Linked DNA regions of Homo sapiens. The protein of the gene in region 7 purifies or fractionates together with the protein of the main gene of each other region. This does not show direct contact. Each region holds a gene or a part of one and is shown on either strand. Other genes may lie near its edges.

Region 1 (3,500 bases), on a different chromosome or scaffold from region 7:
AAATAAAAATGCAAAAATGCATATGGCAAATGTATTTAAAATAATTTGGGATATTTTTACTTCATGTCAAGAACATAAAAGTAGTTTGCCTTTTAAACATATGAAACCTTTTATTTTGGTTGATCATTATTACCCTTTTAACAAATCAAGGCAAAAATATTCCTCAAATATTTGTGATTAAACTGTTGAACCGGAATTGGCTCACCTCCCAATGACTTCACAAGTATCTGCTTCAATTAATTTTGAGAAATAAAATAACCCAATCATTCTTTAGTTTTCTGATGCCTCTGCAAAATGTATCTGAAAAAAATATCAAAATAAATTGCTGCATAACAACATATAGTGTACCTTTGAATCAAGTTTATGTCTATCCCAATATCTGAGGTGTTACATTAGTTACACTGAAACAAGTCTGCTTCATTTCAATCAAATTTGCCTTATTTGTGCCTTTTATAAATCACAGCAAGAGAATCACAGAGGGTTAAAAATCTTAGAACTCAGGAATTACCTGGCCTAATCTCCTTATTAGGAACTGGGGCCCAAAGAGGGGAAGTGACTTGGCCAAGCTCACACAGTTAACAGTAGGTCCTGATATGAAATTACATATTATTGATGAAAATGTTTTTCCACATTACCTGGATAATTTGTTTACCATTATATCTACCACATAAAAATTAAAAGTTGGTTCTAATAGTACATACAAAAACATGAAAACAAGAGCTCCATTCCGAGATGAAAATTTTACTCATAAAAAAGCTCTAAAGAGCTCCAAATAAAAACACCAACTTTACCTTAAATAAACATATACTTTTATAATCATCTAAAATTTTCCTGAAGACTAAATAATATTTAAAAGTGGTTACCTCAGCCGGGTGTGGAGGCTCATACATGTAATCCCAGCACTTTGGGAGGCCGAGGTGGGCGGGTCACTTGAGGTCAGGAGATTGAGACTAGCCTGGCCAACATGGAGAAATCCCACCTCTACTAAAAGTACAAAAATTAGCTGGGCGTGGTGGCACAATGCCTGTAATCTCAGCTACTTGGGAGGCTGAGGAGAGAGAATCGCTTGAGCCCAGGAGGTGGGGGAGGTGGCAGAAGTTGCAGTGAGCTAAGATAGCGCCACTGCACTCCAGCCTGGGTGACAGAGCAAGACTGTCTTTAAAAAAAAAAAAAAAAAAAGTAGTTACCTTGGGTGAGTAGAAATGGGGCACCAGGAACCGAAGAGTTTTGTTTTGTTTTGTTTTGTTTTAATCATTTTGAGTTTTTTTTCCAGACAAGCGCTCACTCTGTCGCCCAGAGTGGAGTGTAGTGGCATGAACACAACTCTCTGCAGCCCCGACGTCATGGGCTCAAGTATCCTCCCATCTCAGCTTCCCAAGTAGCTGGGACTACAGGCATACGTCACCACACCTCGCTAGTTTTTTTGGTATTTTCTGTAGCGACGGCATCTGGCCATGTTGCCCAGGCTGGTCTCAAACTCCTGAGCTCAAGTGGTCTTCCTGCCTCGGCCTCCCAAAGTGCTGGGATTATAGGCCCCCGGCAAAATCAGGATTTTAAGAACAAAACAGATACTTTTCAGCTCCAAATCTGTCTTCATCTTAAAGTGGCAGGATATAGGAATACCTTCCAACATTGGTAAATACTTACATTTCCAACCAGACACAGTGAGAGAGAGAAATCAAGTCAAACAGAGAGACACCAAGCTCTTCTATTACTCACAGTTCTACAGATCATAGAGGTCTCAAAATGTTTGGCACATAATCGATAATGTTTATTTAGCTGATCAGGTGTTTTATCTTCTAAGTCTGCTCTCCTACAGTTCTCCACCCACTTCTGGCATCTATAAATAAAACCAAAATACAATTATGAAAATGAGCTCAGCATTTAAATTTCAGCCTTCAGTTTTAAGGCAAACATACATTAATAACAACGGATTCCTGCTCCCCTCCCTGAGAACATAATTTGGAGAATTTGATTAATAACAAAATAACAGTTGGAAAAAACCTTAGAAGTCATTTAGTACCAACATTTCAATTACAGACAAGGTTAAGAAGTAACTTGTTTGGAGGGAAGTACAAAATCATCAGCAGAACTAGAACTGAAACCTGCATCTTCCAACTCCCAAAACATCAGAGAAGATTCAACCATCAGCAGAACAAGCAGAAAGCTGCATGCACAGCCACAAGGCTCACAGCTTAACATTCCCTTCAGGATTTCAACTTCAACAAGCATACAAAACAACACTGTCACTGTAGAAAATCAGCAATTAGGCCGGGCGTGTTGTCACGCCTGTAATCCCAGCACTTTGGGAGGCCAAGGCAGGCAGATCAGGAGGTCAGGAGATCGAGACCATCCTGGCTAACCCGGTGAAACCCCGTCTCTACTAAAAATACAAAAAATTAGCTGGGCGAAGCGGCGAGCGCCTGTAGTCCCAGCTACTCGGGAGGCTGAGGCAGGAGAATGGCGTGAACCCGGGAGGCGGAGCTTGCAGTGAGCCGAGATTGCGCCACTGCACTCCAGCCTGGGTGACAGAGCCAGACTCCGTCTCGGAAAAAAAAAAAAAAATCAGCAACTAGATGTTCTTTAAATAACTAGTTTCTAAGGGAAGCATAAAGGCTGTATTCGTTTATCTTCCTATGAACACAAATTATTATCTACAGTAATACGTGCTGACTAGATTGCAAGCTCCATGAATGCAGGGACTGTGACTACACAATCTAGTACACAAAAAGTGTTGAAGACAGAGAACAAGACAAAGTCCATGCCCTCTCGGTGCTTAAATATTTTCAGAAAAGCTAATAATAAGCACTTATTATGAGCCAGACACGTTCTAAGTCCTTTCCAAAGATGGGTACTATTAATATCCCCCTTGTGCAGATGAAGGCACAGAAATATTAAGTAACTTGCTAAAGTCACAACTAGATCTTTCCTCAAATTTCTTTTCTTTTCTTTTTTTTTTTTGAGACAGAGTTTTGCTCTTGTTGCCCAGGTTGGAGTGCAATGCCATGATCTTGGCTCACTGCAACCTCTGCTTCCCGGGTTCAAGCGATTCTCCTGTCTCAGCCTCCCAAGTAGCTAGGATTACAGGCATGCGTTACCACGCCTGGCTAATTTTGTATTTTTAGTAGAGACTGGGTTTCTCCATGTTGGTCAGGCTGGTCTCGAACTCCCGACCTCAGGTGATCTGCCCGCCTCGGCCTCCCAAAGTGCTGGGATTACAGGCGTGAGCCACCGCGCCCGGCCCATTCCTCAAATTTCTAAGAATAAAAGTTCTGCCGTGGATAAACAGTATCACAAATTATTTTTTTGAGATGGTGTCTTGCTCTTTAGCCCAGGGTGGAGTGCAGTGGTGTGATCTCAGCTCACTGCAACCTCTGCCTCCCAGGTTCAAGCAATTCTCCTGCCTCAGCCACCCAAGGAGCTGAGATTATAGGCGTGCACCACGACACTCAGCTAAGTTTTGTATTTATAGTACAGATGGGGTTTCAGCACGTTGGCTA
Region 2 (3,500 bases), on a different chromosome or scaffold from region 7:
AGAAGAGGTAGGGTCTGGGAAACATTGGCTTAAATGGTAGAGAACCTTTGTGCTCTTTGAGAATAAATGAACAAAATTGCATTAGCACAGGGAAATGAGGTTGGAGACTGAAAAATAACAATATTCACCAAAACCCTAATGGTGGAGAAGTGATACATTAGTAAAGACTGAAATTGGTAGCTGGGTTATGTTAAAACACATTTCCTATCTCTGATTACAAATTGTATCTCAACTGCTGGCAACTCTTTGAATTTATTGTGCCGAAACTTGCTTAATCATACAATACATACGCTCTTCTTTTTGTAGGCGGCACTCCCCCTATCGCACACTGGAGCCAGTGCGTCCTCCAGTGGTACCAAATGATTACGTACCTAGCCCAACCCGTAATATGGCTCCCTCGCAGCAGAGCCCTGTGAGGACAGCTTCTGTGAATCAAAGAAATCGAACTTACAGGTATTTTCTCTACCTCAGTGCAAAATGTGATGGTCATAGTACCATAATCTGTTCAGATTACTTCAGGTAAATCTCTCATTTTCCAAGCACTAAGTTCTTTTCCTCACTCTATTCTCCCAAACCTCATCTGATTTCACCTCTCTCTCCTCATGTTCTGATTCAACTTTGAGCAGTCAGGAAGTTGATAAAGAACAGACATCTCAAAGTGCAGACTTCTCTCCAAGTTTTAAGAGTTCAGTTGATCTGGAAAAAAAATTATGGACCAAATGTGGGAAATGTCAGGTTGTTTTTTGGTGGAACTTTACAGATGAAAAACTATACATAATAAAACATTAATATGGGATAGTACATCAGAGTATGATTATTAATTAAAATTACTCAAATCTGTTTAGGAAAATGTTTTTGTTTTATTATAAAAGAAGTTTCTTCAGATAGGCATTAAACTGGAATATAAAAAGGCAATATTTATTGTTTTAATGTGTTAAACCTCAACATTTATCACTTGTATTTATGGATAATTTTTTCAAAATGTGGTCAAAACAAGCTTATTGAACTCAGTTTTCCCCTCAACTTTATTAATAAGTAAATATATATATATATATACACACACACACACACACACACACACACACACACACATTTTTTTTTAACCTGTCACTGACTTGGAGCTCAAGGAAATTTTATTTTGAAGTGGTACGCTTTTGAATTACCTTTATTGTAGCTACATTCATCTCAGAAAATGTCGGGAAGTGCTGATGATCTCTTACTGTTTATAAATACTCATGTTTTGGTGGCTCTTATTTCTTTAGCAGCAGTGGGAGTAGTGGAGGGAGCCACCCAAGTAGTCGGAGCAGCAGTCGAGAGAACAGTGGAAGTGGTAGTGTGGGGGTTCCTATTGCTGTTCCTACTCCATCTCCTCCCAGTGTCTTTCCAGGTAAAACATTCATGGTGCCTCGTCTTCACTTTTCCTTTCTGAATTTGATTCAATTTGTGATTTAATTATGGTGGGCTTTCTTCGTAATCAGGATTTTTTTTCTTTAGGAATCATAAATATTGGGAAGTCTATATATTTGTTATTTGTAAGCAAGTGATTTGTAAGTGTTTGCTCACTTTGCACTTCTCTTTATGCCTTTGGTGATGTGGCTCAGTTGCTGCTTTGAGGTTTCAGATCACACTTTGTTATGAGTACAAGTTTAATTCCAGCTAGTGTTATGACAGTGCAGTCTTTGGACACAGTGGGAACTCAGTGTGAGAACCATATTAGTAACAAAGGATTGGGCAGATATAAAAAGTAGTTTTGACAGTTAAATTTAGTGGCTGTATTGGAATTTAGTAGTCTCTGAAAATACTACCCTCTTTTCTCTGAAACAGAAAAATCTGCTTATTTGATTCGAGGAGATACACACTTAAAACTTAGTTTTGAAAACGTGACACAAAATACATTAATAGAATGTTACATACTTAATTTACTTATAGTAACAAGTAGATAATGCCTTTTAAAAATCATAAAGATTTGTGTTTTAAAAAAAATTTTTAATCTGATAATATGGAATATGTCTATTTTCTGATTTGTGTAATTCAAAATGGAAAACTGTTGTTTTTTAGTGTATTATGTTAGTTTTGTATACTATATACAGAATGTTATGCTAAAAATAACAATACGAAGGGAACACTTTTCTTCTGGAGTAGTGCTTTCAATTGAAAAGGAATGTTTGTTTTTAATGAATTGAAAAAATCTGCACATTACCCTGAGCATCTTGAATTATTTGCTGCTTATATAGTAATCCTTTAGCATAAGTTTTATTCTTTTTTTCAACTCTGTTCTTTTGGTTAGTGTTAAGCACTGAATATCTAACATTAAATACTCTAATACCTTTTCTAATCCTGCCTCATGTGATTGCCTCATTAATGCTGCCTCTTACTCCTCTTTCCCCTCAGCCCCTGCTGGCTCTGCTGGCACTCCTCCCCTTCCTGCTACTTCTGCATCTGCCCCTGCTCCTCTTGTTCCTGCTACTGTCCCTTCCTCCACTGCCCCAGACGCTGCTGCTGGGGGTGCCCAGACCCTTGCTGATGGCTTCACTTCTCCAACTCCCCCTGTTGTTTCTTCCACTCCCCCTACAGGTAAGTATTTGCTTATTCATTGGCAGGCAGATGCAGTCATCTGGCTATTCTCTTACTTGCACCTCTGATTTTTGTTTGTTTTTGGTTTTGTTGTACTTCGTATTAAAAAAAAATAAGAATAATGTACTAACCAGAAAGTATGTGACCAAAGATTAGCATTTCCTGAGAAAATTGAGGTAAAGTTTCTCATACATTTTTCCAATAGGGTAGCATAAATTTGTGTTTTTTTATTGCTTGAATTTCATTTATTAGAGATTTTTAAGTTTAATATGGAGCTACCTTCTATACAGTTTTTGGAAATTATCATTAGAAATATTTTCATTATAGGTTAAGTGATTAACAAAAGTCTATTACAATAATTCTAAGGTATATTTTATAGGAAATATTTGATACAACAAATGGAAAGCCTCTGTAAGTCTATTTTTAACAGAATCTGTTGCTTATTATAGCAGCATTGGAAACTCATAGACAATGGACTTTTAAAGAATTTCAGGTTTATTTAAGTTGGCTGGTGTTTTAAAATTGCAATCTAAAATCTGTTTTGATTGGGGAGGAGATAGACTCAATTGCTACGAAATATATTTGTAGAGTTAATGATGCTGGCTAGTAACAGGTTCTTGTCTGCTATAAAATGTATGTGTTTGGACATATATCACTGTATTAGTCTGTTCTCACATTGCTATAAATACCTGAGACTGGGTAATTTATGCAGAAAAGAGGTTTAATTGGCTAACGGTTCTTCAGGCTGTACAGGAAGCATGATAGTGGCATCTGCTTGGCTTCTGGGGAGGCCTCAGGAAACTTACACTCATGGCCTAAGGCAGAGGGGAAGCACACTGGTCACGTGGCCAGAGTAGGAGCAAGAGGACAAGGCGGGAGGTGCTACACACTTTTAAACAACCAGATCTCATTATTGCAAGAACAGC
Region 3 (3,500 bases), on a different chromosome or scaffold from region 7:
ATTAGAAAGGAAAAAGTAAAACTATTCCTATTTGCAGATAACATAGTCTTGTTATAGAAAATCCAAGAAAAATCCACTAAAAACTATTGAAAGTCATAAACAAGTTCAGCAAGTTTGTAGGATACAATATCAGCATATAAAAATCAGTAGTATCTCTATATACCAGCAATGCACAATATGAAAATAAAATGGAGAAAACAGTTCTATTTATAGTAGCATCAAAAATAATACAATACTTAGAAATAAACTTAACAAAATAAGTACAAAACATACACTCTGAAAGCAATAAAACCTTGTTGAAAATATTAAAGACCTAAATAAATAAAAAGATATCCCATGTCCATAGGTTGGAAGGCTTAATATTGTTAACACGGCAATACTGCCCAAACTAACCTACAGATTCAACATAATCTCTATGAAAATCTCATCTGGTTTCTTTGCAGAAATTGACAAGCTGATCCTAAAATTCATATGGAAATTCAAGGGACTCACTCAGGATAATCAAGACAATCTTGGGGGTGGGAGGAACTGAACAAAAATGGAAGACTCACACTTCCTGATTTCAAAACATACTCAAAACTACAGTAATCAAAATTGTGTGGTGTTACCATGAAGACAATGAACAATGATTAAATTAATGGAATTGAACTGAGAATCCAGAAATAAATCCTCACATTTATGGTCAATTGACAAGAGATGTAGAAAGAATATTCTTTTCAACAAATGATTCTAGGACAACTGGATACCCACATGCAAAATTTGTTTTATGGTGTGAGGTATAAATAATGTAATATATAATAAATTAACTCAAAATGGATCAAAGATCTATGTAAGAGCTAAAACTATAAAACTCATAAGAGTACATCTTTGTGACCTTGAATTATGTAATAACAACAAAAACACAAGCAACAAAATAAAAAATAAACTAAACATCAAAATAAAAAAAATTGTGCTTCAAAGGACGCCATCAAGAAAGTAAGTCCACAGAATAGAAGAAAATATTTGCAAATCATGTATTTGCTAAGTATATAAAATATGTAAATAATTCTTGGCTGGGCACAGTGGCTCATGCCTGTAATCCTAGTACTTTGGGAGGTTGATGGGAGAATCGCTTAAGCCAGGAGTTCAAGACCAGCCTGGGCAACAGAGTGATACCCTGTTTCTACAAAAAAATTTTTTTAAATAAAAATAAATTTAAAAAATGAATTCTTAAAACTCATTAATAAAGAGAACCTGATTTTAAAAATAGGCAAGGAACAGATTTTTCTCCAAAGATATACACATAGCCAATAAGCACACAGAAAGATTAATAACCTTAGTTATTAGGGAAATGCAAATCGATACCACTTCACACCCACTAGGATGGCTATAATGAAAAGGACAGACAATAACAAGTGTTGGCAAGGATGTGGAGAAACTGAGAATACCGTTGCTAATGGGAATGTAAGATGGTGCCGCAACTTTGGAAAATCGATTGGTATTTCCTCAAATTTTTAAACACACAGTTACCATTTGACCCAGCAATTCTACTCCTAGGCATACACCCAAGAGAAATGAAAATACAGGTCCACACAAAAACTTGTACATGGATGTTCATGGCACCATTATTTGTAATAGCTAAAAAGCAGAACTAACATATGCATCAACTGATAAATAAAAAATTGTATAGCCACATGGAGTATTTTTCAGCCATAAAAAGTAATTAAGTACTGATATTGATACAACATGAATAAACTTTGACAATATTATGCTAAGTGAAAGAAGCGAATCATTAAAGACCCCGTATTGTATTGTTCCATTTATTAAACATGCCCAGAATAGGCAAATCTATGGTTGCCAAGGGGTGGGGTTGGGGGAAATAGGTGGTGGTGCTAAAGGCCATGAGATTTCTTTTTGGGGTGCTAAAATGCTCTAAAACTGACTACGATTATGGGTTGTACAACTCTGTGAATATATTAAAAACCACTGAACGGTTTTTTTTTTTTTTTTTTTTACACAGAGTTTCACTCTTGTTCCCCAGGCTGGAGTGCAATGGCATGATCTCACTCACTGCAACCTCTGCCGGGTTCAAACGATTCTCCTGCCTCAGCCTCCCGAGTAGCTGGAATTACAGGCACCTGCCACCATGCCTGGCTAATTTTTGTATTTTCAGTAGAGACAGGGTTTTGCCATGTTGGCCAGGCTGGTCTCAAACTCCTGACCTCAGGTGATCCACCCACCTTGACCTCCCAAAGTGCTGGGGTTACAGACATGAGCCACCATGCCTGCCCTGAACTATATTTTTTAAATGAGTGAATTGTACAGTATGCAAACTATATTTCAATAAAGCTGCTACCAAAAGTTAGTATTTTTATAACTACTTTTTGGGAAACTTTGAGTGTAACATAAGCAGAAGGGGTACAAAGAGAGCTGGGGGTAGAGTAGGAGCTTGGGGAGTTTGGGGACTGTAAATGATGCCCCTACAAGCAGAGGCTGTGGAGAGCAAAAACCAACGGGGATAGCAGGGGAGGAAAAGAGTAATAGATACAACCATACCACCCCACAGAGCAGCCCCCTAAACTGCAGGGGTGAACTAGACCATACAGGGCAGGCCCAGCTAGCTTGTTTGTTCCCTCCCCCTGCCCCTGCCTGTTTTGGTTTCTCTGCCATCTGTCAGGTCCTGGGGCTGCCCCACCCTGGAGTAAAGACTTCTCAGATAATATTAACTGAGGAGTAATAATATTACTGCCTGTGAGGTGGGTGGGGTGATAGGTTCTGAGGTTTAGAATGAGAACAAGAAGGGAGCCTAGCTCTCTTTCTACTGATGAGGAAACCAAGGCTCAGAAAAGAGAAGGGACTTGTGCAAGGTCACTGGGCTAGTTAGGGGTGGAGCTAGGGTTAACACTGCACTTCCTGAGAAGACAAGGGACTGCAATAGAATAACTCATATGACACAGAGCTTTAAAAGAAAAGGACAGGGCCAGGCACAGTGGCTCGTGCCTGTAATCCCAGCACTTTGGGAGGCCGAGGCAGGTGGATCACCTGAGATCAGGAGTTCAAGACCAGCCTGACCAACATGGTGAAACCCCATTTCCACTAAAATTAAAAAATTACCCAGGTGTCATAGCACACGCCTGTAATCCCAGCTACTCGGGAGGCTGAGGCAGGAGAATCGCTTGAACCTGGGAGGCAGAGGTTGCAGTGAGCTGAGATCACGCCACTGCACTCCAGCTTGGGGAACAAGAGTGAAACTCCATCTCAAAATAAATAAATAGATAAATAAAAAGACAAGTATTGCAACAAAAATTCTGCAGCGAAATGAAAAGCCCTCTAAGAAAGGAAATATAATCAAAGGACTTTACTTGGCTGTCTGTGATCATCATTTATATATATTAATAATGTAGACACTTTAAACCTGATTTAGGTTAAAATAGAGCTCTTCCTATCTTGAGAGACGGGGGCAGGGGAGGGAGGGAGATGGTGTAAGAAAGTGAAATCTCCATCCATCACAGCAGGAAGTA
Region 4 (3,500 bases), on a different chromosome or scaffold from region 7:
GCATTCAGCACCCACCCCAGGGGAGAAGATGCTGTTTCTCTTCCTGTCCTGTCCCCAGACTCTTCCAAAGCAAACCCCCTTGGCCTCCAGCTTCCCTGCTCTCTGTCCTTAAGCCTGGCCTGAGCTTCTCTTGGGGCCACAGACCCTGCCTCTCTCTCTCAGTGCCCCCTACTCCCCAGCCTTCCCCCACCTCCTGACGGTCTTCTGTTTGCACGCATCTGTTTTGCTATTTCCTTGCCCAAAAGTCTGTCTCCCTTCCACGTCCCCTCATGCCTCTTCTCCCTCTTAACAGAGGGGAGTGGTGGAGAAGGGCCAGGGGACACCACCTGGGCCCCCTTCCTCTGCTCTGTCCCTTAACCACCCTGGACTCTCTGTTCTTGGCTTTTCTGAGAAGCTGGGGCCTCCCGGGGCCTCACAGAGGCGTCTTGTCATGTTCCTGTCGCCCCCGCCCTTTTTGCTGCTGCCCCCAGAGCCTGTTGGGCTATGCAGGTCCACGCCCAGGCTCCGCCTCCCCCCAGCTCCACAACCAGCTCCCCCCCCAACCCTAGGGCAGAGCGCAGGAGCAGAATTCCACCTGAGTCCGAGAAGTTTGAGAGGGGAAGCGAGAGTGGGGGGTGGGTGAGGGGATGGAGGAGCAGTTTCTGAGGATCCATTCATTCTACAAATAGCTACTGAGCAAACTGACCTTCTAGCAGGGGAGAGACACAATAAATACTTTAATTTCAGATAATGTTAGGTGCTATAAAAAAATGAAATAGTTCAGTAAACCAGTGAATGATGGGGAAATGCCTCTCTAAGAGGTGACATTGGAGTCATTTTAAGAAGGCAGCCTGGGTGCAGTGGTTCACGCCTGTAATCCCAGCATTTTGGGAGGCCGAGGCGGGCAGATCACTTGAGGTCAGGAGTTCAAGACCAGCCTGGCCAACATGGTGAAACCCTGTCGTCTCTACTAAAAATAAAAAAATTAGCCAGGTGTGATGGCAGGTGCCGGTAGTCCCGGCTACTCAGGAGGCTGAGGCAGGAGAATCAGTTTAACCTGGAAGGCATAGGTTACAGTGAGCCAAGATCACGTCACTGCACTCCAGCATGGGCGACAGAGCGAGACTCCAGTAAAGGCACAGGCTGGGAGTGGTGGCTCATTCTTCCAGCACTTTGGGAGGCTGAGGCAGGAGGATCACTTGAGCCCAGGAGTTTGAGACCAGCCGGGACAACATCTTGAGACCCTGTGTTAACCAAAAATAAAAAATTAGCCAGTTATGATGGTGCATGCCTGTAGTCCCAGCTACTCGGGTGGCTGAGGCTGGAGGATCGCTTAAGCTCAGGAATTCAAGGCTGCAGTGAGCCATGATTGTGCCACTTCACTCCAGCCTGGGTGACAGAGTGAGACTGTCTCAAAAAAATAAAAATAAAACATAAAAGAAGGCAGACACGCTGCGTAGCCTCTGATTAGGGGTCCCGGCCCAGTGGGAGCTGGGGCATTGGAGTCTATTCTGGGTTCCTCCGTCAGTCACCCCCTCCTCCCACTTGGGAGACTCTCTCTAATGTCCTATACACCACTCCTCCCATTCCTTAGGTTGACCCACTTCTTGCTTCTAGTACCTGCCTAATGCCTTCTCCAGAGCTGGAGGAGGGAAGGACTGCGGGGACAGGACTCCTGGGTCCTCGAAAGAGAGTGGGGAGGTGGAGAGGGAGGAAGGCTAATAGGCAAGTTTTAAGGCAGCTGGTTCCTTTCTTTTCTCTTTTCATGTGATGGTTCCTACCTCTCCGCCTCCAGGTGCCCCCACTTGACTCTCGCCCCAGCTCCCCAGCCCTCTACTTCACCCACGATGCCAGCCTGGTTCACAAATCTCCAGACCCCTTCGGAGCAGTAGCAGCTCAGAAGTTCAGCCTGGCCCACTCCATGTTGGCCATCAGTGGTCACCTAGACAGCGACGATGATAGGTAGGTGGGCTTCGTGGGGTGGTGGGGCGTGGGGTTCAGGTTCCCCGCCCAGCACCCGGGGTAGCTGTAAGAAAGTGCCTGGTAGGCATCCTTCCCCCAGGTTGAACTTGGAGAGGACCTCTTAGAGAAACCTGGCCTGGGCATAGCCACTGCACACAGTTGATTTCGGACCCACTCCCTCTCTGTGGAGAGGGCTGGGTGGGACTCCCTGGCTCAGAACTGTCAGGTCACAGACTTTTTTAGAGTCTGAAGGGAGTCATTGTTGTCAGATTCCAGAGCTCTTGCAGATTTAGAGATCATCTGGCCAACCCAGGAACCCACTGGCAAATGCATGCTCTAGACAGAATAGCAAATCAGGCCGGGGCACAGTGGCTCCCGCCTGTACTCATAGTGCTTTGGGAGGCCCAGGCAGGAAAATTGCTTGAGGCCAGGAGTTCAAGACCAAGCCCTGGCAATGTAGCGAGACCTCATCTCTAAAAAGAAAAAGAAAGAAAGAAAAAAAAAATATATATATATATACATAAAGGAAGTAGGCTGGGCATGGTGGCTCATGCCTGTAATCCCAGCACTTTAGGAGGCTGAAGCGGGCAGATCACCTGAGGTCAGGAGTTCGAGGCCAGCCTTGCCAACACGGTGAAACCCTGTCTGTACTAAAAATACAAAAATTAGCCAGGCGTGGTGGTACGTGCCTGTAATCCCAGCTACTCAGGAGGCTGAGGCAGGAGAATCACTTGAACCCAGGAGGCAGAGGGTGCAGTGAGCCGAGATCGCACCACTGCACTCCAGCGTGGGTGACAGAGCGAGACTCCGCCTCAAAAAAAAAACAACAAAAAAAACTGAAAAAGAATGGAAATCAGTTTCCTCCCAGTTCCATCTCCCTCTTTCTCTCCTAACAAAGGACTGGGACTCCCTAACAGCACCTGTGGAGCGTGACATCCTGATAGCCCACAGGGTCTACTTTAGGATCCTAAGATTTCTAGAACCGAGAAAGCAAGTCCCTAAGATGGGCCAGCTAGGAACAGAATCAGAGCTAGGAACGGCAAAGGGGCAGGGGCAGCACTGCAGAGAGCGACTTTCTGGGGTTCTCCCTTTAGGGGACAGTGCTCTGTTGGGTGGGTTTTCAGGGCCAGGTGTCACCATTCCTAAGAAAGCCAGCAAGCTGAAAAGGGAGGCCCAGAATCGTGAGTCAGAGATAGCCAGGCTGCCTGCTTCTCCCCGGGGACTGATAGGAACCGGGCAGAAGGGCTGGGGAGTCACCGCTTTTCTTTTGGAGGGAGAAGTGGGACTTCCCGTGGGAGGTTTTCAAGGGGAGGGACTTCCTGCTTGGAAGGAAATTGGGGGTGGGGCTTCGAGAGTGGGTGAGTGGGTGCCTGAGGGACCAATTCCAGATGGGAGTCGCTCCTTCCTGTCCTCCCCAGATCAGGGGCCACTCGCTGGGATCAGGGACTCAAGCCCACCACTGATAGGGTCCTGCGGCCTCAGGGAGGATAGGGACCTGGCAAAGGAGGTGGCCAGGAGCTGGTGGGACGGAGGGCAAGAGTGCCAGTGCTGGGTGGGGC
Region 5 (3,500 bases), on a different chromosome or scaffold from region 7:
GTTTGAATAAAGACTTTGGTACTACAGTTTAAAAAGTCAAGGAACCACTTGCACTTGGTCTTCCTATTATTTTATGCCATTTATATCACATTGTAGCCAAATACAGGTGAGATGACTGGATTTAATATCTTATTTTATTGTTAAACATGTTCACTGAGATCAAACTTATCTGCATTCAAACACTGGGTTTCCTAAAATTTTTGAAATGTGTGCATGAACACAAACTATAGATCTTACTTGTCAATTTGCTCAAATACGCATCTGAAAAATCATCTTCATCCTAACAATTCAGTAACAAAGTCACATATGATGTCTGGGAAACCTCCTAATTGTAAGTCAATGAAAGCAAGGCAACTATCGAAAAATGAGCAAAGCAATAAATGTTAGCAAAATTAATGTTCCTATATAAACACAGATGTCAATATATCATTGATATATTAACACAGCCAAGCTAAATGTTGCTTATTTGAACTGAACTTGAGTATTAAATAATCTACATAAATCCTACAGGGAAAAGCAGACAGACATAAGAAGAGTTTTCAAATTTTAGTGGCTCTGCAGCCTCTATCAATACAGAGGAAATACTGTGGATCAAATGATAAGTAATGGCTCTTACCTTGGCTTTTAGCCACTTTACGTTGGCAAAAAAAGGGGGGGAAAAAGTAGACATTAATGCTAGGTAAGTTATATCCGATAGGACAGGTTTACATTTACAGTTACTCAATTCATGTTAATAAGCTTTTTTCCAGCCATGTTTCAACTACTTTGTAAAGAAAAAGAGATCCATACGTACTGGGGAAATACTCATGTGTTTCATGTATTTTTCAAAAGAATTATATTCATAAGGAAACCACCACTTAATTATTCCAATCTCATGCAGGCTCAATGATTTTTTAAGTCAGTATTTTGTCCTATGGAACTAATCCAACCGAGTAACAGATGATTTTAAAAATACGCTCATTTAAATACAAACACCATAACACATTAGATGTGAAGCTATTTTAACATATCGGTGCATGAGACCTAACACTTTACTGGATAATGAATGTCCAAGTATGAGTATTCATTACTTCAATGGTAGTATAGTTTAAAAAGTGATAAACTGCAAACATTAAAATTCAAAACCACAGATTGCTTCCAAAAATGAAAAAAGGACCTAGTATCTCGATGTTTAAAAACAAATTCATCATGCACAGTGATAACTTAGCCAGATTCTAACTAAGAAATAAACAAACAGGGTCTGGAAAACTCTCTCATTCCTAGCTTCTGAACCCCAATCCTGTGCAGGCCAACACTAATAGGAAGTTCTAAGTAGCTTTAGTTCTAAGTTTTCATCTGAGCCAGTTAAGTCAAAATTCAAAGTTGAAGAAAAGTTGTTTTGATCCTAAAGGCTACTTCTATTAAAGCTGACTAGCCTACACAACATGAAACAATGTGTAGTCCTAAAGCATCACTACTTGTACAATGCCACTAAAAAAAAATATCTTCAGGTTTTAGAGTCTAATTTTTTACAGATTTGGGGGCTTCAAGCTTTTTTTTTTTTTAAATAACATCTGACATTCTCAACAAGTAACTACCATTTTTCAGGTGGCCACAAGGCAGTATCAAAGGAAATCATCCAAAGGAGAGATTTGGTGTCTTTTGGATACATTCTCATTTATAGAAACTGTGCGAGAAATTTGGTACACTTCAATATTTGTTTAAAATGATACTGCTTACTTCTATCTGGAAACAACATCTGGTACCCTACCTAACCATGACATTTCACATCTAGAGAATAAATTTTGAGTATAACATTATTAGGATCCTTGAAGATAAAATACACTAATGTATACTTCAGTATCTGTATTATGATATATACTATACATGTATAGTATATACTTACATAGCAATGTATATCTTATAATGTATATACATAATACTAAATACTATCCTAAAATAACCAAGAAAATATTCTAAATATGTCCACATATCTTCCTTCATTTGTCATTTCAAGTGGATAAGAAACAAAAAAATTAGCATTCAAGTATAAGCTGGTCCCAAATGGAAAGAATAAAAGAAGAATTAGATTGGGAATGAAAATTCTACTTGAACTCTGTGCTACTATGCAATGGTATAAGCTTTAACCTCTTATGAAGTTCGGCCTCCTCTATTAAGTGTTATTAGACATGCAGATGTGTCAATGTTGGCAAGTGTTAGTAGGAAATAACCTCTACATCTTACACCTCAAAATACTAATATTTTTGTTAGAAATCTATAAAATTTTTTATTTAAATATCCCCAAAATATATCCAAAATGAAACTTTTTTATTTCCTTAAGATCTCATTTCAGGCTAGGCACGGTGGCTCACACCTGTAACTCCCAACACTTTGGGAGGCCAAGGCAGGTGGACTGCTTGAGCCCAAGAGTTTGAGACCAGCCTGGGCAACAAGGCGAAACCCCTTCTCTTGAAAAAAAAAAATAAAAAATTAGCCAGGCATAGTGGCGCACACCTGTAGTCCCAGCTACTTGGATGGCTGAGGAGGGAGGATCACTTGAGCCTAGAAAGTTGTGAGCTGTGATTGAGCTATTGCACTTCAGTGAGACCCTGTCTCTTTTTAAAAAAATCTCACTTTGTTTCCTTAACATTTACCTTTATGGATGAGTAATTTTACCATTTGCCTGGAATCTGTTTGAAATTCCCTTTGATTCCTCCCTATCTTCTAAGTACATCATAGTTTTGTATGTCATAGGCACTAAATGTCTAATGCTAATTCTTTTTTTTTTTTTGCTGGCTCTGTTGCCCAGGATGGAGTGCAGTGGCTCAATCTTGGCTCACTGCAACCTCTGCCTCCCGGGTTCAAGCGAGTCTCCTGCCTCAGCCTCCCAAGTAGCTGGGATTAAAACTGTGTGCCACCATGCTTGGCTAAATTTTGTATTTTTAGGAGACGGGGTTTCACCATGTTGGCCAGGCTGGTCTCGAACTCCTGGCCTCAAGTGATCCTCCCACCTGAGCCTACCAAAGTGCCAAGATTACAGGCATGAGCCACTGCACCCAGCCAAGGCCAATTCTTTCTTTGAAATGATTCTTAACTCACTCCTCTGCTTTATAAAATAAAAATTAAAAAAAAATCTTCCTATGTAAACATTATAAAGCTTTAGTTTCTACACTGTTTTAAAAAAATTAATCAGAAAGCCATTAGGCTGAGACCATTAGGCTGAGACGGCTCCAGCATTCTGGGTTCCTACTTAGGCAAACCAAAACACAATTAAAAGAAACTTAATCAGAAACCTCCAACTAACCTCTAACTAGGAACTTTACTAATCAGAAACCACAATTAACTTCTAACCAATCAAATATTTTGCTTGTCTTGCTTTCTTGAACTTCTACCTGCTTCATGTCTCCTGTGGTCTGAAGCTGCCCGATTCATGAATCACTGTAAACTAAAACTCCAAAAAAAGTAACACATCTAAGCTTATCTTTTAAGACCAATAATAAAATCTAACAACTCCTAGATCA
Region 6 (3,500 bases), on a different chromosome or scaffold from region 7:
TCCAACATTCTTTAACTGAACTATAACTGGAAATGAGAAACTGGGTTTGCTGTTGTGAGGTAATCAGGCAATTCCATTTTTATGGATGCTATGGGGCTACATTATTTTTATCCTAAGCAACTTCCTGGTAATAAGTTATGAGACACAGTTAATTCTACCAATTTACAATCACTGACAATGAAAATGTTGAGGATGACACACAATTAAAAATATATTTAGGCTATCTAATTACAACTGCCTTTCTCTTTCAAAAACAGGTTATATTATAAAGTAAAATTCAAACAGGTTGAATATATAACTAGTGAAAAATATTTCAGGCTTATCAGGTTCTTAATTTGAAAAGCTATTAATTTTAGAATTCTCTTCCATAAAATCCTGAAGATTGGCTAAGATGAAAGTCCAGAGTCTGATTCTTACAAATTTCAAGTTACAGGAATACAACTTTGGAGGCTTCACTCAGTATTTTCAAGAGCCTTTGTATTACTCTAAAACATGTAACAGGCCTGGCACAGTGGTTCACACCTGTAATCCCAGCACTTTGGGAGGCCAAGTTGGGCGGATCACTTTAGGTCAGGAGTTCGAGACCAGCCTGGCCAACATGGTGAAACCCCGTCTCTACTAAAAATACAAAAAATTGCCAGGCACAGTAACATGTGCCTGTAATCCCAGCTACTTGGGATGCTGAGGCACGAGAATTGCTTGAACCCAGGAGGCGCAGGTTGCAGTGAGCCGAGATCACGCCACTGCATTCCAGCCTGGGCGACGAGAGCAAGACTCTGTCTCAAAAATAAATAAATAAATAAATAAATAAAATAAAAAACAAAATGTAACAAATTGGCAACGATAAAACTAGATTACTGATAATGTCAATAAATGCCCTCAGAAAATGTGTTTTTTATACTTAAACACAATTTCTTATTATTTAATATATAAAACATTTTTCCATTCCTTCCACCCAGATTTCAATTCTTTTGACAACAAATAGAGCTTTAAGTCTAAAATATTCAAATAAAATTGTAACTAACCTTTATATATGCACTTGGGTAGATCTTATGAACAGCATCTCCAGGTGCACGCCCAGCTTCTCTGTCTAAGTAGTAACTCTGTACAAAGACCGCGTGGTCACTAAGGCACCTGACCCAAACATCACCTTCACCTTTACATTCCAACTGCACACCTTTGCCTATGTGCAACCTTAGGAAGAAAAAAGAAATTACATTTTATCTTGATAAGTATTTTAAATTAAATTTTAGTTCAGATTGTATAGCATGCTTAATATTGAAAAATTAAAAATAAAGATCACATAAAACCAAAAGATAGCTATTAACATTTTTGTATATTTCCTTTTTTCTTTTCCTGTTCATATCTAATAATGATGCACATATTTACAACACTTACTATGTGTCAGGAGCATGTAGTATGAATTCTCATTAAACCCTTACAACTCAACAAGTACTATTATTCTAATTTTTTTAGATAAAGAAACTAAGGCATACTGTCCAAATTGATAGCCACTAGCCACATGTGACTATTTAAATTAAATTAAAACTAATTAGAAATCCGATTAGTCAATCAAGTGAGCTATAATTTAAGTGCTCAATAGTTACATGTGGCTAGTGGCTACCGAACTGGACAGTGCAAATATAAATCATTTTCTTCATCACAGAAAATTCTATTAGGCAGAATGGCTTAGAGGTTAGGTAATTTGCCAAAGTCACATGACAGCAAGTGATAGAGCCAAGATTATGTTCTTTAGCACACACATCCTTAAAAGCCGAGATCATACAGTAGCTAAAATGGAATGTTCCTGTAATATTTCACTGTAAGCATTTCCATTTCATTATATAAACTTTTTTTTTTTTTTTTTTTGAAATGGAGTCTCACTCTGTCACCCAGGCTGGGGTGCAGTGGCACGATCTCAGCTCACTGCAACCTCCACCTCCTGGGTTCAAGCAATTCTCCTGTCTCAGCCTCCTGAGTAGCTGGGATTACAGGTGGACACCACCACATATGGCTAATTTTTGGTAGAGACAGGGTTTCACCATGTTGGCCAGGCTGGTCTCGAACTCCTGACCTCAAGTGATCTGCCTGACTCCGCCTCCCAAAGTGCTGGGATTATAGGTGTGAGCCACCGCACCCAGCCTCATTATATAAACTTTTAAACATTTTAATGACTGTATAAAAAAGGAAAAATTTATCATAATTTACTTAACCATTTCCCTTTTATTACCAATTTTTTTAACATTATAAGTAAAACTTTCAGAAACATGTTCTCATTTAATATTACTTCCTTTCAGTAATTTGTAGAAATGTATGATCACAGAAAATAAAATTTTCAAACTGAATTTCAAAAGGTATACTTACTATTCGAAACATAGAAACCTACTAACATAAAAAAGGCTATCTTTTATCATTATATGTTAAACAACAAAAACACCGACAATTAAGATGGAGTGCTTACAAATTCTGAGTTTTCAACATGACCTTTATTCCTTTATTTATATTTAAGAACACATATAATGTACATGGGAAAACATAACCTTGAATAAAAGACAATGTACTATGCTCAATTTTTTAAAGTAACTATCTGACTATACAATCAATACCTTGCTCTCTCAATGGCTTCTGTCCTGTGGACATTGGAGAGTTGACCCAAACAAAAGCGATCTCCTCCAGAAGGGTCCACGTATCCATCAACAGTAACAATAGGGCAGCTTGAAGGAACCTTAAATGTCTCTCCTACCTGAACATCCATTTCAAAGTAAGCAATGGAACACCAATACTCAGGAGCTATAGGAAATAAATGGGAAAGAACATCCTCCCATGAGAAAGATATAAGGCTTTCACTTGCACTCCACAACACAGTTTTTCCTAAAAGAAAGGGTAAAGGGAGGGGAGATGGAAATGTAATGCACCCAAAACAACTGGATTAAAATAACATAATGCATTAAAAGGTAGGAATTTCCATGTCTTCTATTTTCTAGCTCAGTACTTAGCACTGTTCTTAAAACACTAATTTTTTTTTTTAATTTCCAATTACCACTTATCCTCAAGTTCTAAAAGTCATTTTTTAAAATCTGGAATTTGGTTCTTACCTCAAAGGACCAGGTCAACTGAGAATTTAAAGAACAGAAATAATCAGAATCTAAAATAAATTATTTTACCATGGTATTTCATTTGACTACACATATTCTCTATGTAGTCTCAACTTTTATTTTTTAAAAACACACTGACCCTAAGATGTATTCCAGGGAACTGTCCTTGAATAACATCGACTCATGACATATTTTTATAGATTCCCTAATTGAGAGAAAGTGCATAAGCAAGTCAGCTATCCCATCCCTGAGTTAAGGTTAATTATACTCTAATCACACAGTTGTTGTACACACAGATTCTCAACTGTCTCTTGGGTAGAAGGTCATTTGTCCCACCTATGCCATAGCAAAAGGTATTTTTAGTGAAGTCAGGTCATGTTAACTACCACAATTTTAACTTTGGAG
Region 7 (3,500 bases):
CCAGAAGTTCGAGACCAGTCTGGGCAACATAGTGAGCCCCTACCTCTATTATAATAATTTTAAAAGGGAATAATGTTTATTTAACGATGCTCTGAGACCAGATTAATATTTTGTAAAGTTTGTACTTTGATGTGCCAGCTTGATGTGCCTCCTGTGAGGCTTTTGCTTTTTAACTCCCTTTGCTTTTTAACTGCCTTCTGGATGAAGTGTTCTTTTTGTTTCATGCTTTGACTTGACAGCCTAATGCTCAGGACAAGGTTTTTCTTGCTCCTTTCGAGAAAAGGAGCTGGGTCCATGGGAGCCACTTCCGGGTCTCCCTGTTTGCAGACCCCACAGTATTCCCCCTCAGGTGGCCATCCTCTTGGGACAGCCAGCAGTGCTCCCAGGGGCGGCTGTGTCTGTGAAATGGGAGCTGTGATCCCAGTCTCTGAGTGCCTTAAGACCACCAGCACTCCAAACTTGGTCAAGTACTTTCAAATTGGCAAGCTCATTCCCTCCTCCCAGACACCCTGTGAAGCGGACATTCATTGTCTACGTTTAAAAGGTTCTGAGAATAAGGGGCTTCCCTACGGGTACACAGTTTGAGGCCGAATTAGGACTAAACCTTCTTTTACTCTGGGTCTGATGGCTTCCACCTGTGCTCAATCAAAGCCACCTCCATCTGGGATTTTTGCCCAAAACCTTTTTGCTGGTGATTTCCCTCCAGAAGTAAGCAGTTTTTTGAGCTCTGTCTCAAATAACATTTGGCCAATATGTATTTCCAAAAACGTTTAATTTTATTTATTTGTTAAGTTTCTTTACTGACTACTAACTGAAAGGAGACGCCAAATGGGGCTTTAAGGAATCACATATGCAACTGAAATAGTATGCAAATGTTTTTCTTGAAATTTTCCATTCCTTTCCCACATGTAAGGAAGAGAAAACAACAAATTGCAGACATTGCTGTTCTGTTGCCTCAGGTTCCCTGAGTAAGAAAGAAGGAAGATGGTTTTCTAAAGGCAGGCTTGGGAAATACTGTCAGTGGGGGGCTCATTGATTTAGTCGGGGAATAACTAATTCTAAAATGCATCAACAAGGTGAAGCTACAGGATATACCAAGCTGTGGCACACCTGCCTAAACACATACCTGAGTTCTGAAATGTCCAGGTCAAAGATTTATAACGGAGGTATAGTTACATTAAAATTAAATTAACTAAGAGGTCTATTACTGGATAAATATTTCAAAAATAAAACTTTCCATTTCAAAGTAGCCACCATCACCGCTGATGATAAAATCCTGTTTTCTGGTCACAATTCCCCTTTTAAATCACCTGGTAATTGTGACCAAAGGAAGAAGGCCTGATTCATCCATGCAGTCCCCACGCAGGGAAAACCTGAGGCCCACGACTCAGTTTTCCATGACAAATCTGGTGTGTGCCGCCCCCCAACCCTGGCTCTTTGTCATTAAAGAACATTCATTTTTGTTGAACCGTTTATAGTTCTCGTTTTTATATTTTCACTTATTCTAAATCAGCGTATCTTGAAGAGACAATAACAGAATTTTCCAAAATGTTTTTATAAAATTCCTCTTAAGGGATTTTCACAACCTAGTAATAATCACATAACACAGCTAAAGCACAAAATTCCAACATTAATTCTTTAAAACATAAAGAGAAAAGGCACATTGAACATCAATGATGACAGCAGCATTAAAGAAAGAGAGCTGGGCCAGCCACAAAAATATTAGAAAAATTCTAATTTTAAAAATTAGCATCGCATTGAAGGTAAATCATATTCTCTATCATCATATGCACTGACATGTTTTAAAATGCATCAGTGTACTCACGTCTTTTTATCTAATTTCTAGTTTTTTCTAGTTTGTCTTGACAAATGACTAGCAACCAGAAAAAAAGTCAGAAAATCCTTCTTACATCAGAAATGATCACACCTGAAGCTGTCCTTTCCCTTCACTTGCTTTCCGGAATCCTTCCCACTTTTACTGTTTGCTTTATTTGGTGGCTTGGGGTGCCTTTGAAAATCTCCTTTGTTCTTTTTCGGCTTAGTCAAAAATAGAAACCTCTTCAATAAAAGAACAAATTCAAAAGTAAACTGGAGATAATTTCGATGTTATCATTTTAAGGCTGTAATTTGGATATTTTAACATAAGGAGTCGAGTAACAAATGAAATACACAATGTAAATATGTATTTGCAGGGATTATCTCCTAGGTGATATATTGTCACGTAATTAGTATTCTTCAGTAGGATATCATATATCTCAGTAATTGCAAATAAAACAGAAAATTACATTAAGCAAATCCATGTTTGTGTATGGAAATGTTGTAGACACGTCTATTTCCACTCCATTTTCACATTTAATCATTGCTAAATCTCTACAATGTATTTTTCTAATGTCTCACTCTGTAACAGTATTCCATATGTTTGGCAATCTTTCCCTCATAGCAAGAAACTTTCAATTAATTTGGCTGCAAGTTTTGTCTCTATTAAGCTATTCCCAGAACCAATCTCTTAACCCCCTAACATCATAATTAAAGCAAATTATACTTTAAAGACATGTGGGGGTGAGGTACTGCAGTTAAACATCTGTGGCTAGACCCAGACTGACAGAGGGAACAGGGTGGGGAGATCTGAGAAAAGAAATCCACCAAAATTACAGCAGGAGGTAGGACTCACCTCCCAAGACGACTTTCCAGTCAGCCGCTCATACAGTTAACCCCAAAGTCCATTTTCCAAGGGAGAATCCATTTCATTTTCACCAATTAAACCCAACCTGTCCACCTACCCCCAAAAGCAATGCCTCAAAATGGTTGACTTGTGCTCCATTTTGATCAGGGATCCTATAAAATTGAGGACTAAATAAGGTAAAACCTCACAGTGGCATCTAATTTTAGTTGATTTCTTCCTACCACAGACAATAAGAGCCCAGCTCCAGGGCGGCTTCTGTCCTATACCCAGCACCTGTGCTTCCCTCCCAGGGCGCCTAGAAAGAGAGATGGCTCCACCACGGTGCAGCCTGCTGGACACACGACCGCCCTCCTCCCCGCCCCCCCCGCCGAGTAAAACCCCTGTGTCGTGAATTCCTGCACTATCCCATGTTTCTCCCTGCAAAGATTTTGCAAAGGAAGGAAGGGATAGACAGAAGAAATTGGGGGAACAGGGGAAGGAGAAGGAGGGAGGAAGAAAGAGAAATTCAAGCCACCAGACCGCGATGGAATTTTACTAAAAGCAGTGGACCCTATTTGCCCACATCTCTGTTATGGGCATTGTTAACACTCATTCCAGGAAGGGAGAAAGGCAAAACATTGTTACAAAAGTAAAATCGCCTCAACGGCACCCCAGCCAGCCCTCTCCAAATTCAGCCGTCTATGCAGCCATGTATTTGGTGCTGCCACAGCAAACTGCTGCTTCAGTCTGTCTCCAACCGTGGGTTTCTCAAAGTGGGTAATATTACTCCTTTTGTCCTCTCTTCAGCTAAACTGGTTCCAAGTCCCTATGCGTCCCA

What was found.
Region 1: the proteins of LHX4 (region 7) and THAP12 purify together in Homo sapiens (affinity purification with mass spectrometry; 3 studies listed by BioGRID and IntAct, with this or other methods). This does not show direct contact.
Region 2: the proteins of LHX4 (region 7) and ABI2 purify together in Homo sapiens (affinity purification with mass spectrometry; 3 studies listed by BioGRID and IntAct, with this or other methods). This does not show direct contact.
Region 3: the proteins of LHX4 (region 7) and CYFIP2 purify together in Homo sapiens (affinity purification with mass spectrometry; 2 studies listed by BioGRID and IntAct, with this or other methods). This does not show direct contact.
Region 4: the proteins of LHX4 (region 7) and TSC22D4 purify together in Homo sapiens (affinity purification with mass spectrometry; 2 studies listed by BioGRID and IntAct, with this or other methods). This does not show direct contact.
Region 5: the proteins of LHX4 (region 7) and ABI1 purify together in Homo sapiens (affinity purification with mass spectrometry; 3 studies listed by BioGRID and IntAct, with this or other methods). This does not show direct contact.
Region 6: the proteins of LHX4 (region 7) and SMAD4 purify together in Homo sapiens (affinity purification with mass spectrometry; 3 studies listed by BioGRID and IntAct, with this or other methods). This does not show direct contact.

What each region holds. Positions count from the first base shown.
Region 1 is NC_000011.10:76,364,133-76,367,632, forward strand, and holds part of THAP12 (52 kDa repressor of the inhibitor of the protein kinase), read right to left. Parts: intron 1,841-3,500; coding exon 1,720-1,840; intron 301-1,719; exon of another isoform or gene 206-300; intron 1-205. UniProt on the Homo sapiens protein: Upstream regulator of interferon-induced serine/threonine protein kinase R (PKR). May block the PKR-inhibitory function of DNAJC3, resulting in restoration of kinase activity and suppression of cell growth.
Region 2 is NC_000002.12:203,394,394-203,397,893, forward strand, and holds part of ABI2 (abl interactor 2), read left to right. Parts: intron 1-306; coding exon 307-453; intron 454-1,262; coding exon 1,263-1,387; intron 1,388-2,391; coding exon 2,392-2,574; intron 2,575-3,500. UniProt on the Homo sapiens protein: Regulator of actin cytoskeleton dynamics underlying cell motility and adhesion. Functions as a component of the WAVE complex, which activates actin nucleating machinery Arp2/3 to drive lamellipodia formation.
Region 3 is NC_000005.10:157,272,623-157,276,122, reverse strand, and holds part of CYFIP2 (cytoplasmic FMR1-interacting protein 2), read right to left. Parts: intron 1-3,500. UniProt on the Homo sapiens protein: Involved in T-cell adhesion and p53/TP53-dependent induction of apoptosis. Does not bind RNA. As component of the WAVE1 complex, required for BDNF-NTRK2 endocytic trafficking and signaling from early endosomes.
Region 4 is NC_000007.14:100,472,715-100,476,214, reverse strand, and holds part of TSC22D4 (TSC22 domain family protein 4), read left to right. Parts: intron 1-1,774; coding exon 1,775-1,941; intron 1,942-3,500. Other genes in the region: TSC22D4-C7ORF61 (uncharacterized protein LOC122198330), read left to right, coding at 1,775-1,941.
Region 5 is NC_000010.11:26,770,459-26,773,958, forward strand, and holds part of ABI1 (abl interactor 1), read right to left. Parts: intron 632-3,500; coding exon 617-631; intron 1-616. UniProt on the Homo sapiens protein: May act in negative regulation of cell growth and transformation by interacting with nonreceptor tyrosine kinases ABL1 and/or ABL2. May play a role in regulation of EGF-induced Erk pathway activation. Involved in cytoskeletal reorganization and EGFR signaling.
Region 6 is NC_000018.10:51,064,713-51,068,212, reverse strand, and holds part of SMAD4 (mothers against decapentaplegic homolog 4), read right to left. Parts: intron 2,791-3,500; coding exon 2,607-2,790; coding exon of another isoform or gene 2,600-2,606; exon of another isoform or gene 2,468-2,599; intron 1,195-2,467; coding exon 1,026-1,194; intron 1-1,025. UniProt on the Homo sapiens protein: In muscle physiology, plays a central role in the balance between atrophy and hypertrophy. When recruited by MSTN, promotes atrophy response via phosphorylated SMAD2/4.
Region 7 is NC_000001.11:180,236,764-180,240,263, reverse strand, and holds part of LHX4 (LIM/homeobox protein Lhx4), read right to left. Parts: intron 1-3,500. UniProt on the Homo sapiens protein: May play a critical role in the development of respiratory control mechanisms and in the normal growth and maturation of the lung. Binds preferentially to methylated DNA.